2 separate regions of the Homo sapiens genome follow, and region 2 is linked to region 1. The links come from fine-mapping of genetic effects on gene expression. Tissue or cell type: whole blood. Region 1 holds a variant in brackets; the other region holds the start of a gene. All regions are shown on one strand. Distances are from middle to middle.

Evidence for each region. PIP is the estimated chance that this variant, and not a neighbour inherited with it, causes the effect.
Region 2: it holds the start of PLCB3, and the variant in region 1 is the best candidate, but not a certain one, in a credible set for the expression of PLCB3 in whole blood (INTERVAL, PIP 0.86).

Annotation. Positions count from the first base shown.
Region 1 is chr11:64,097,278-64,102,640 of GRCh38, reverse strand. All of the region lies in intron 3 of MACROD1 (mono-ADP ribosylhydrolase 1), which reads left to right. The region is part of intron 1 of FLRT1 (fibronectin leucine rich transmembrane protein 1); the gene reads right to left. Among named protein-coding and RNA genes, the nearest start is that of FLRT1, 64 kb to the right of the region's middle. The variant T/C (reference allele first, on the strand shown) is at 2,142.
Region 2 is chr11:64,249,127-64,254,489 of GRCh38, reverse strand. It overlaps PLCB3 (phospholipase C beta 3), which reads right to left and starts at 2,960. Exons shown (of 31, transcript NM_000932.5): 1 at 2,742-2,960; 2 at 1-75. The coding sequence starts at 2,840. RefSeq lists silencers at 1,978-2,191, 2,679-3,148 and enhancers at 1,581-2,227, 2,228-2,873, 4,168-4,815, 4,816-5,363.

The DNA of each region.
Region 1 (5,363 bases):
GGGGTGGAAGGACTGGGAAGAGAAAAATGAAGTTTTTCGAGCTCCTGGCCGTGCAGGGCCAACCGCCCAGCCCAGAGCTGGCTCCAATTCCCCCGGCACCTGCTCTTCTTGCTAAATGTCATTCAAAGGCTCCAACTGGGCCGCCATGGCCTGGGCTTCCAGAACAAGCACTGCCTTTCCCCACCATGGGAAGCAGGACCATCAGGGAACTGGGGAAGTTGGGTCTCCGTGTTTCTGGCCTCTGTCTGGTGCCCACCCCACTTCCTAGGTGGGGGGTCAGTCCTCAACACCCGCAGCCGCCCTCCTCTTCCACACAGACGGAGGGCAGGGCAGGCTGTTCTGGAATCCAAAACAAAACCCCGAGCCCTCCCCAGCACCTCTCATTAGTGCGGCATGTGGAAGGGCCGCGGCGCCCTGGTGTCTGTATTCCCCCTGCAGGAACCCCTCTTTGGAAAAGGGCTTTTATTACACATCTGAGAGTGCTCACTCTGGTTTGAAATCAGATCCAGATGGGCTCAGCTGCATCTGGGCACTTTTCTTTGTAGGGCCTAAGGTGGCTGATTTGAGAAATGCTTGTTGTCAGAGGCCGTTACAAATAAAAACAGGGATATTAGGGTTCATGTTTTAATAAGCCCAGCACCCAGATGGGGGGTGGCTGCCCACGGGGCTCACAGCCTGGCAGGGAAGGCATTTGGGAAGGGTGTGTGCCAGCCAGGTGGTGTGCAGGCTGAGTCTGATGGGGTGGACAGGGTGGCAGGGGGAGTTTTCTTGGGACAAGCTGCCCTAGGAAGAAGGAGGTTTCAGAGCCAGCAAGCCCCACGGGACATCGATTCTGAATGGCCAGTGCCTGGTGAATACTACAGGTGGGGCACAGGCCCTGGAAGGGGTACGGTGGGGCTTACGCAGGAGGGAAGATGAGGACAGAGTCCCTGCACGCGGCGGGAGGGCGGCCGGCTCTAGCACGAGCCCTTATTGCTATTACCACCCGCGTGATTTCATCCAATTATAAATTGTAATTTCTCCATGAAAGCGAGAGATGGAAAAAGTCCAGTGAGGTCATCCGCCTCCCTGGCCGGGGCGCAGAAATTGTTTTATACCGATGGGGGTGGGGCAGGGGCAGCGGGCCTTGGCATTTTGAGAGGATGATTGCCGTGTCCTGGGAGCCCAGAGGCTCCAGTCAGCTGTGGCCGCTGCCTCCCGATAAAGAGAGAAACCACTGAGCTCTGCTTTTGAAATTAAGAACCCAAAAAGGAGGCAGGTTCATCCCACTGGTGTGTTCACCTCAGACCCTTCCCATAGCTTCTCGGCTTTATCCTGAGAGCGTCCCATAGCTCTCAGGATAGAGGCAGTGCTCCTACAGTAGTCTCCAAGGGCCCTGCCCAGCCCACCAGCCGTGTCTCCCACTACTGCCCACTAATGCCCTGAGCTGGCTCCAGCCTGGCCCTTCACTGTACTGTTCCCCTTCTGTAAGAATCCATGCAGACGTCATCCCTCCCTCCCTGCAATGGGCCACCCTCTGCTTGGCTTGTGTGGTCCTGTGAACCATGACAGCAACAACGGAGCATGAAAAGAATTGTCTCCCTGGCTTCAAGGGAGGACCTGAGGCTGGATCCCCCAGCACCTGGCTCAGTGCCTTGCATGCAGTTGGTGCTTAATAAATGCACCCACCAAACTCTCCATCTGCTCCCTCATTTAGAAAACCAAGGCACTAAGTGAGGCTCTTGGTGCCCGTCCAGCTTTGTATGTCCTCAGTCCACCTTCCCTGCTGCAGCCCCCACCCCCACCTTCCCTGGGGCCTGCAGAGCCTCCTGGAACCCCAGTGCTGGGATACTGGGCTCCTCAGCGTCTGTGCCCTGGATAAGTGGGGCCTCTCAGGCTTCTGGGGTGTGTATTGGTTTTCCAAGTGAGTCTGGCTGGCAGTGGTTGGGAGGTGTGAGCTCTCCAGCAGCACTGTGGCTCTTCCCTTGTGTGGGCGCATAATGATGATCATTAGTAGCCACCTGCATTCACTGAACCAAAGGAGGCCCAAGAATAAATATGTAAATGCGTGCGCCTGGCAGACACCTCCCGCCAGAGCCACAGCACCCCCAGTGGCCACCCTTCTGGCTCGAGTGAGTGGAGACCATGCCGTGTGAAGTTAG[T/C]GGTTACACTCCTCGCCTTGGCCTCCCCCGTTCCCACAGGCTCCAGGTCTGGTCTCTGTGCTCAAAACCAATAAACCATTTTTTGAGTCAACATCATAAAAGCTTCCATTTTGAGTAAAAGTACTTTGAGATGCTTACACAATTTTCTACTTTTGTTGTCGTCAATCACATCACAACTGTATTAAAAGAAATTTGAAAGGAGGGAAAGAAAGCCAAGTGCCCAATCTCACATCTCTGCACCACCCTCTGCGTTTTGGCCGAATCTGCCCATACATATATGCCAGGGGACAATGCACCTTGTCCTTTCCCAGTAATTTCTGCCTTGCCATCTTCCCTGAGCTTGGGAAGACAGCATGGCTAGCAGGTCAGGGAGGACCACTTTCATTGTGTGGACTGAGAAGAGGGAGCAGGACTTGTGCAGGGTTATACAACCTGTAGCAGTGTCAGGGCCTCAAACTCCAGGCCAGTTTCCTTCTTGCTGCACTACTCCAAGACAGCGCAAGAGAAACGGACCATCCACCAAACACTGCACTGAGGGGTCCTGGGCTTCTCCTGAGGCTCTCTTGTGCACCCCTCCATCCATCCATCCCTCCATCCTTCCATCTCTCCCTCCATTTCTCGATCCCTCCATCTCACCATTTCTCTATTCATTCATCCATCCATCCATCCATCTATCCATTCACCTCTCCATCCGTCCATCCTTCCTTCTCATTTCTCCATTCACCTATCCATCTCTCCATCTGTCAACCCATCCATTCATCTCTCCATCCATCCTTCCATCTATCTCTCCATCCTTCCAACTCTTCATCCATCCATCCCTCCATCAATCTATCCACTCATCTCTCCATCCATCCTCCTATCTCTCCATCCATCCATCCTTCCATCTCTGTATTCATCCTTCCATCCGTCTCTCCATCAGTCCATCTATTCACCTCTATCCATCCATCCATCTCTCCATCTTTTCATCCATCCATCCATTTCTCCATCTATCCGTCTGTCCATTCATCCATCCGTCTCTCCATTCATCCATTTCTCTCCACCTATCCATTTCTCCATCTTTCCATCTACCCATCTCTCCATCCAGCAAACATATTCTGAGTCTAATCATGCTCCAGGCATTGTACAAGACATTGGGGATCCAAAGAGATGCCCTCATCCTCCAGGAGCTCACAGTCCAGTGGGGAGGGCATTGGTTTTCAGAGGGCTACAATGTGAGACGCACACAGGGCAGTGTGGGAGCCAAGAGCCCCGCCTTGCCCAGCCTTCGGGGAGTGGGGTGGATCATGGAGGCTTCTTGGAGAAGATGACGCTGTGCTGTGGTTCTGGGGTACTCTCATGTTATGACAGTCACATGTGAGCTCAGTGGCAATCCAGAGGGAGGCAGGTCTGGCTGTGTTTCCCCTTGACCACCTGCCTATCTTCTAGAGCCACTGCCCACCCTTGGCACTCAGGGCTTCCTCCCGAAGTAGAAACGATCCTCAGGCCCTCAGCTTTACAGTTCATAGCTGCCTTAAAGATCGGAGCTCTCTGATATTAATTCCTATATTAGCAATTAGCCCTCCTGTTTCATTTCAACCTTTGGCTCTTTGGGATGGATTTTTATGTATGTGTCATTAATCAGATGGCTGGTATGTGCTGCTAGAAACCCAGGTGGGCTTTATGGCTGGTGACTTAGCGAAGTGGTGTTTTAAATGAACAACATGCCTGCCCCCTCCCTGGGAAGAGCTGCCCTGTGGCAAAGAGGGCAGAGTTTAGATCATTGTAAGCAGGTCAGAGCTGGTGCGAGCTAGGAGACCCAGGATTTTCTTTCATTTTGGACTTCCAGGCTGAGGTCAGCATCTGTATCTGACCTTTATAGATGAAAAGGCTCTTTGTGACTCAAACTGGAGTTTGTTCCATGGCTCTGACTTCCCCCTACCAGGATGGCCATCCACAGAGCCTGTTCCTTTCTTTCCCATTGCAGAGAGCAGTCTGGGGGCTGCTTATTCCCTCTCTCCCGAGGGCACTGGAGACAGAAGGCTGGGGGCAGGGAGAGCATTGCCGTGTGGGGGCTAGGACCGCTCCAGTAATGGGCTCAGCATGTTGGGAGTGGGACGGGAAGAACATTTCAGGCTGAGGGAACAGCCTATGTGAAGACTGGAGGTGGGAGGGCTTGGTATAGTGAGAGGTCAGTGTCCCAGAGCTCTGAGTGAGTGGAGGGCCGTGATCCGAGCTGAAGCAGGGCCCGGAGCCTGGCCTTAGGGGCGCTCTGAATGCTGCACTGAGGGGCCTGGTCTTTGTACAAGGGCAGGGGGGAGGCTGTGAGGGTGCCGAGGCATGGAGGAGCGTGACCAGACTTGCAGTTTAGAAAGAGTGTTCTCGCTGCTGCATGGAGACCTGGAAGGTGCCCAGGTGCACAGGAGAGGACCAGTGAAAAGCTGGGACCATGTCCTCAGGAACAGGGACAGGGACATGGGGTAGGGACCTCATACAGTGAGGGGTTGAAGGGAAGGGGCCAACTTGGGAGGCCCCCAGGTTTTACTCCCTGAAGACAGGCCTGGGTGCTGAGTGGGTTCCCGCCTCCTTCTCCTCACTGGAGGGCAGCTGAGTGCTCCCAGGAGCACCACCAAGAGAGCCATGGACAGCCGGCTTGCTATGGGCTCCAAGCCTGGTCCTGATCTGCAGCCTGCAGCCCCAGGCCTGAGCAGGAGCAGGAAGGCCTCTGGAGGCTGTGCCTTCTGCCCTGTGAGATGGGCCCACCCCATTCCCTGCCCACTCGCTCCGGGCCCCCAGGCTTGGCACCGCTGCATGGCACCCGAGTAGCAGGGTGAGAAGAGGCGGAGGCGAGAGCCTGCTTGTGTGGTGCGAACCCTCCCAGCCTCCGCTCTGCTAATTAAACCATCTCCTGACAAAACCCAGACTTTCAGGGTATTTGCGAGAGTGTGCGAGCCAGGCCGTGGGTGGCTTCAGGAGTCTGTGCCGCCCGGCCGGCGGGCCTGGGCCTTTGCCAGCGCCCACCCTCAAGATGGCCATCAGAGAAACTCAGCAGGCAGCGCCCAGAGCAGGGCACTTCAGGGGTGCGGGGCCCACTCGCCCAGGACGGAGCTTCTCTTGCCACGGGACATCTCCCCTTCTTTATTTTCTTCCTTCCTTCCCTTCACATGTGGGCAGCTCTGGCCAGAGGTGGCCTGGGAGTTCACCCATCCCTTGGTGCTGAGTTGGCAGAGAAGCCCAAATTGGGCG
Region 2 (5,363 bases), 150 kb before region 1:
GTTGGGGCCCGTCCAGTACAAGAAGAAGCCATTGGGGTCCACACGCAGGGTCACCAGGTTCCGACTGGAGGTCTCCTGAGGACAGCACAGGGCAGCAGGGGTCAGGAAGTGAGGGCTGTGGTGCAGGCCTGGCCCCTGGGGCCCTCCCATCATGCACCCCAGAGTTCCTGCCCATGAGCTAAGACGAAACCTCATCCAGTCCACAGGTCCTGTGTGGCTGCCTGTGGCCCTCAGAACAAAGCCAAGGTCCTAGGTGTGACATTTAGTGTCACACCTACCTCAAAGCCTCTTCCCAGCCTCACCTCCCTCTGGCCCTAGGATTCTACCTGACCTTTCCCAGGGCTTTGTCTCATGTTCCCTTTGCCAGGACACCCTGCCCTTCCTTCTCCACCCGTGAAATCTGACCCACCCCCTGGAAGAGGTCCCCAGCCCCCATCCTGGGCTCAGTTTCCCCAGAAGTGCTGAGAGCTCTGTGACAGTGGCAGCCCCCCAATCCACCCCACTGCAGAATGTTTAAGGCATGAAAGTGAGAAGTCTGACTCCCACTGCCCTTCTGCATCCCTTGGGACATCACGATAGCCCTGTGGTCTGCCTCAAAGCCCATTATCCACCTTACCACATCTGCCGGGGTCCTCACAGCCTCAAAGCTCATCCCCATCTCGTAGAAGAACAGTCCCCCTAGAAGGGGACTTGCCCTACTCTCAGGACTGGGCAGTGAGCTCTTCCTCCCTCAAACAGCCGTGCAGCTGGCAGGGGGCAGGGAAGTGCATGCCAGCCCCATTTTCTAAGAAGGGCCCGGTCCCTGGCACACTACCAGGGCCACCCTGTGTGACTCAGGACCAGCAGCCAGAGGGGCTGTCCTCCAGGGCTTAGACTCGGCCAGGGCCAGAGTGAACAAGTGGCTACAGGTAGAACCCTCCTATTCCAGGTTCTTCCAGACAGAAAAGGACCCCACCTCATGTTGGGTGCCACCCCCAAAATGCATCTCAGTGTCTGGTGGACAATACTATTATTATCAATACATCTCATATACGCACACCGCCCCTACTGCGCACCAGGTACAGTTCTATGCACCTAGCATCTTCGAGCACACAAAGGCCTCCTAACCAGCCTAAGAGGCATGTGCTGTTGTCACTCCCATTTTACAGATGAGGACACTGAGTTACAGGGACACTTCGTAGCCTGCCCGAGATCACTGGAGCCAGGACCTGCTTGCAGGCAGTGTGGTTGCAGCGTCCTGTGACCTGGGAAGCAGGGAGCGGAGACTTCTGCCAGGCTCCCGGCTCCTGGCCTCAGCCACACCCCATTGTGGGGCCTGGGATAACTCTCTGCTTTCCAGACCTCAGTTTCCTCTTCTGGAGAATGGGGATTGCACCAGCCCCACCCATGGCAGGCTTTGCTTACAAAAGATGGGCGTTCATCTGGGAACAGAAGGCCCCCAAAATTTGGGGATGCATGGGCCTCCCCACTTCAGTGTGCTGACACCCAGCCCCAGCACTTCTCCGGATTCCCAACCCTACCCTGGGCCTGAGGCCCCCGAATGGTGTGCAGAGCGGGGAGTCTATGGGTACTGCCCCTAGTGTTTCCCTCCCACCTCTCCCCAGGGGTCTGGACCTCAAAGGCAGCCCAGGTCCCCTGCTCTCCTGCCCCAAGCCTCCGTCAGCACCCCCCACCCCACCCCCAGGGCCCTCTCCCTGTTCCCACTTCCTTATTTGGGTTTATCACAGTGGAATGAAAAGAAGAAACTTTTCCCTTCAGGCCAGCCTGGGGGGAGGGGTCTCCCCCGGCCCCTGGGGCCCCCAGGCACCCCACCTCGCACACCTGCCGCTTCAGGCCACGCCCCCATCTCCTCCCCCCAGCTCCCACGCCTACCCCGGGGCCCCACCCAGCCGGAAAAGAGCCCAGAGTCTTCCAGGCCCGTGGCCTGACTGGGAAGGAGCTGCGAGGAAGCTCAGGCCGGCCGGGTGGAGGCCCTAGGGAAGGAAGGGCCCAGGGGGCAGAAGAGGATGCACCCAGGATGGGGATGGGCAGCCGAAGGTGGGGACACAGGCATTTGGGAAGCACCAGGGGCAGGACAGGGAAAGGGGGGCCAGGATGTATTGGGGTTCAAGGTCCCAAGCCTAAGGAGTGGGGAGCAAAGTTCCCAGGGGTGGAGGAACTTGGGGGGCAAAGTCTCCACTAGGGGGTGACTGGGTGCTCCCATCTGAACAGGGAGCTGGGCTGGGATCCAGAAGCAGGGCGAAGGGGTGCCAACCAGAACAGGGGGAAAAATGATGAATGGACGAGGACTGTTCAGGCAGGGCACCGGGGAGAGTAGGGGCGCCCTGGCACACACCCAGAATGAGGATGCCCCCAGCCAGCCTGGAAGTCAGGGTCCTGCAGCCGGGGAGTCTAGTGCTGGGCAGGGGTCTGGGCACCAGGCCAGGATCGGGGAACGAGAATTAGTCTGGCAGGGAGCGGTGGGAAGAACGAATGGAAAACGGGGGGACGGGGTTTATTGGGGTTCAAAGTCTCTGCGCCAAGGAGTGGAGGCAAATTTTCCAGAGCTGAGGGACTGGGAGTTGGGGGGACAAAGTCTTCATTACGGAGACGATCGGGGACTTAAGTTTCCGGGGCGCCGCCAGACTGGGATGAGGGTGGCGCCACGGGCAGGCGAGGCTGGGGTGGGGGTCCCCAGCGTCTGGTCGAGCTTGACTGAAAGAGTCCCGGGATTTGGGCGGAGCAGGGGCCCGCGCGCTTACCTCGTCCCATTTGATGAACTTACTCCCGCGCCGCAGGGTCTCCACCACGGTGGGCGGCTCCAACTGCAGCGCGTGGACGCCGGGCTGGGCGCCCGCCATGGCCCGGCCAGGGGCGGGTCGGGGACCCACGGAGCCCTGACGGGGACCGACGGCGCCGCTGCTCCCACCGCGCGGCCCGCTCCGGCCCCGCGGCGTCAGTGCCCGCCCGCCCGCCAGTCTGTCCCGGACCGACCAGAGCCTCGGCGGGGCCCGGGCGGGGCGGGGACGGGGCGGGGCCTCCCGGGCCCCGCCCCCTCCCACCGCGTCGGCTCCCCCTGGCGGCCGGGGCGGCGACTGCAGCCGGAGCGGGGATTGGGGCAGGGGCACGCGGACGGGTCGGGGGCTTTGCTGCGGGGCTCAGCAGAACCTGATTCTTCAGGCCTGTGGTGGAAGGAGGGCGCTGGGGGCCGAAGTGGCTGTTGGGGAGCAGCTGGAGGGACTGGGTGTAGAGGGCGCTGCTTAAGGCGGTCCGGGATCAGCCCACTGAGGTTTCCGAGCGACTAGGGCTGCAGTACCAGCGGAGGGCTAGACTTGGGCCGGGGGGTCGCTGCACAGCCCTGTCGCCCACCCTCTTCTGCCGCACTTAGCTGAATGCAGGAAAAGCTTCTTCCGCCCCCCTCTGCCCTGGCTTCGCCTCACCCACTCTTATGCCGCGCGGTCCCCCCTCCCTGGGAGCACTTAGCCGGCTAATGGACCTCCCGCCGGCAGGCACCCCTCCCCCGTCCCTAGCCCAGGGAGGCCGGGCGCCTGCCACCTCCTTTAAGGACCCAAGCATCCTGGTCTTCGAGAGTGAGCCCTAGAACAGCCCCCTTCTTGTTGCTGCAGACTCCCATGACTGGAACCTGACTGTGAGCCTCTTGGCTGGGAACCGCGGGGGGAACGCTGTTGTCTGCCCAGAGGGGTCAGAAGCTTTGTGGATGTCCCCAGACAGGAGGGTTGAGGAGGGGCTCTGCAGTGCCTGGCCCACAGCAGGTGCCCTGAAATCTGCGTTCCAGAGATGGGAGCGGGGAAGGCGCATGGGCAATGGGATGGGTGGGGGCTGCAGCCCCTCCCGCAGGGCTTAGCTGGTGGGGGGGGTTCCTGCCTGGGGGCCCCTGTGGGAGCCCCCCCAATACAGAGGCAGTAACAGCAGCAGGTTTAAAGTAGAACTCATCCAGAGGGGCCAGCCAAGTCACCTAGAAACCCAGAAAGAGATGCAGCTGGCTCTGGGGGAGGAGGGGTCAGCAAAGGAGGAGCTCCCCTGCAGGCCCCTTTGCCCCAGGCTCTGAGACCTCCACAAGGAGCCCTGCCTGGCCCTGGCCTTCCTCCACACCCCGCCAAGTTCTCCATCAACTCTAACCTGGCGGATCTCCTCGCTCTCAGCCCTGGCCCTGTGGGGTGTGATTATGATCTCCACTTGAGGCCCAGAGAGGGGAAGGGACTTGCCCAAGGTCACACAGCTTCTTAGGAGGATTTCAACCCTCCGACTTCCTGAGGCCCAGGAGCCTCTAGACCTCATTGGGAAAACAGAACCATGCAAGGTGGAGCTTGGCCTCTGCCCTCACAGGCTGGAGTTCAAATCCGGCTCTTGCTAGCAGCCTCTTGCTAGTGGCAGAACCTAGTCTCTCTAGGTGCCTCAGTCACCTTGTCCAGAACCTAAAGGTTGTTGTATACATAAGCAAATGGGTGGGAGATGCCAAATTGACATGAGTAGCTGGAAGCTGTGGGTATACCAGGGAGGGAGGAAAGGGCATAGGTCAGCTCTGGGGCAGTGGAACCTCCAGCTTGTGCCAGGGCTAGCAAAGCCTGGAGCCAAGGCCTGAGCTTAGGGGATCTGAGCTGTGGGCCCTAGGCCTTGTGCAAGCGTACTTTAGAGAAGCATTGGGCAGCAGCTCCTTGTGGAAAAAAACAGGATGGGCACCTGTTTCCTGGGCTTAAGCCTCTCTCCTCCCCCAACCCTGTGTCTCTGGAGGCCAGGGCAGCCCCCATTACAGGGCTCCTTCCTTCCCAGACACTTTCTTCCATCCTTGGTAATGGTAATAGGGTATCTCAGCAGGCAGTAATGGTGAAGGCAGGCAGCCTTTCCGGACTCTACCCTTGATTGAAGGAGCGGTCTTGACCCACAGGACCCTCCCCAGAGCCTCTGCTTCAAGGATGCACTCTAATGGAGGGGGGCTGGGGCCCTGGAAGGGGTAGGGCTGGGGAGGCCACAGACTGAGGCTAGAAGGAGGAGGAGCAGTGGTACACTCCAGTCCCAGTAGGGCTCAGGCAGGAGGGCCAGGGCTGGGCATGGGCCCCCAACCACAGGAGGTCAGGACCATAAGCCCCCTGAAGAGGCTCTGAGCAGGTAAGTGACTTGCATACAGCCTCTCAGCCCATGGGGCAGAGCCAGGATTTGAACCCAGTATTTCTACTCCAAGGCTAAGGTTCTGTGGCCCAGCTTCCAAGAAGGTGGCAGGCCAGCATGCCCACCTGCACCAAGTGGTCTCGGGTGGATAGCCATGGGAACTGGACAGGAATCTGGGTGTGCCTGGGCATGGCGCGGTGGGGGGAAGAGGGAGAGTCAGAAAGAATGCCTGACCTGTGGACACGGACATGGCTGGA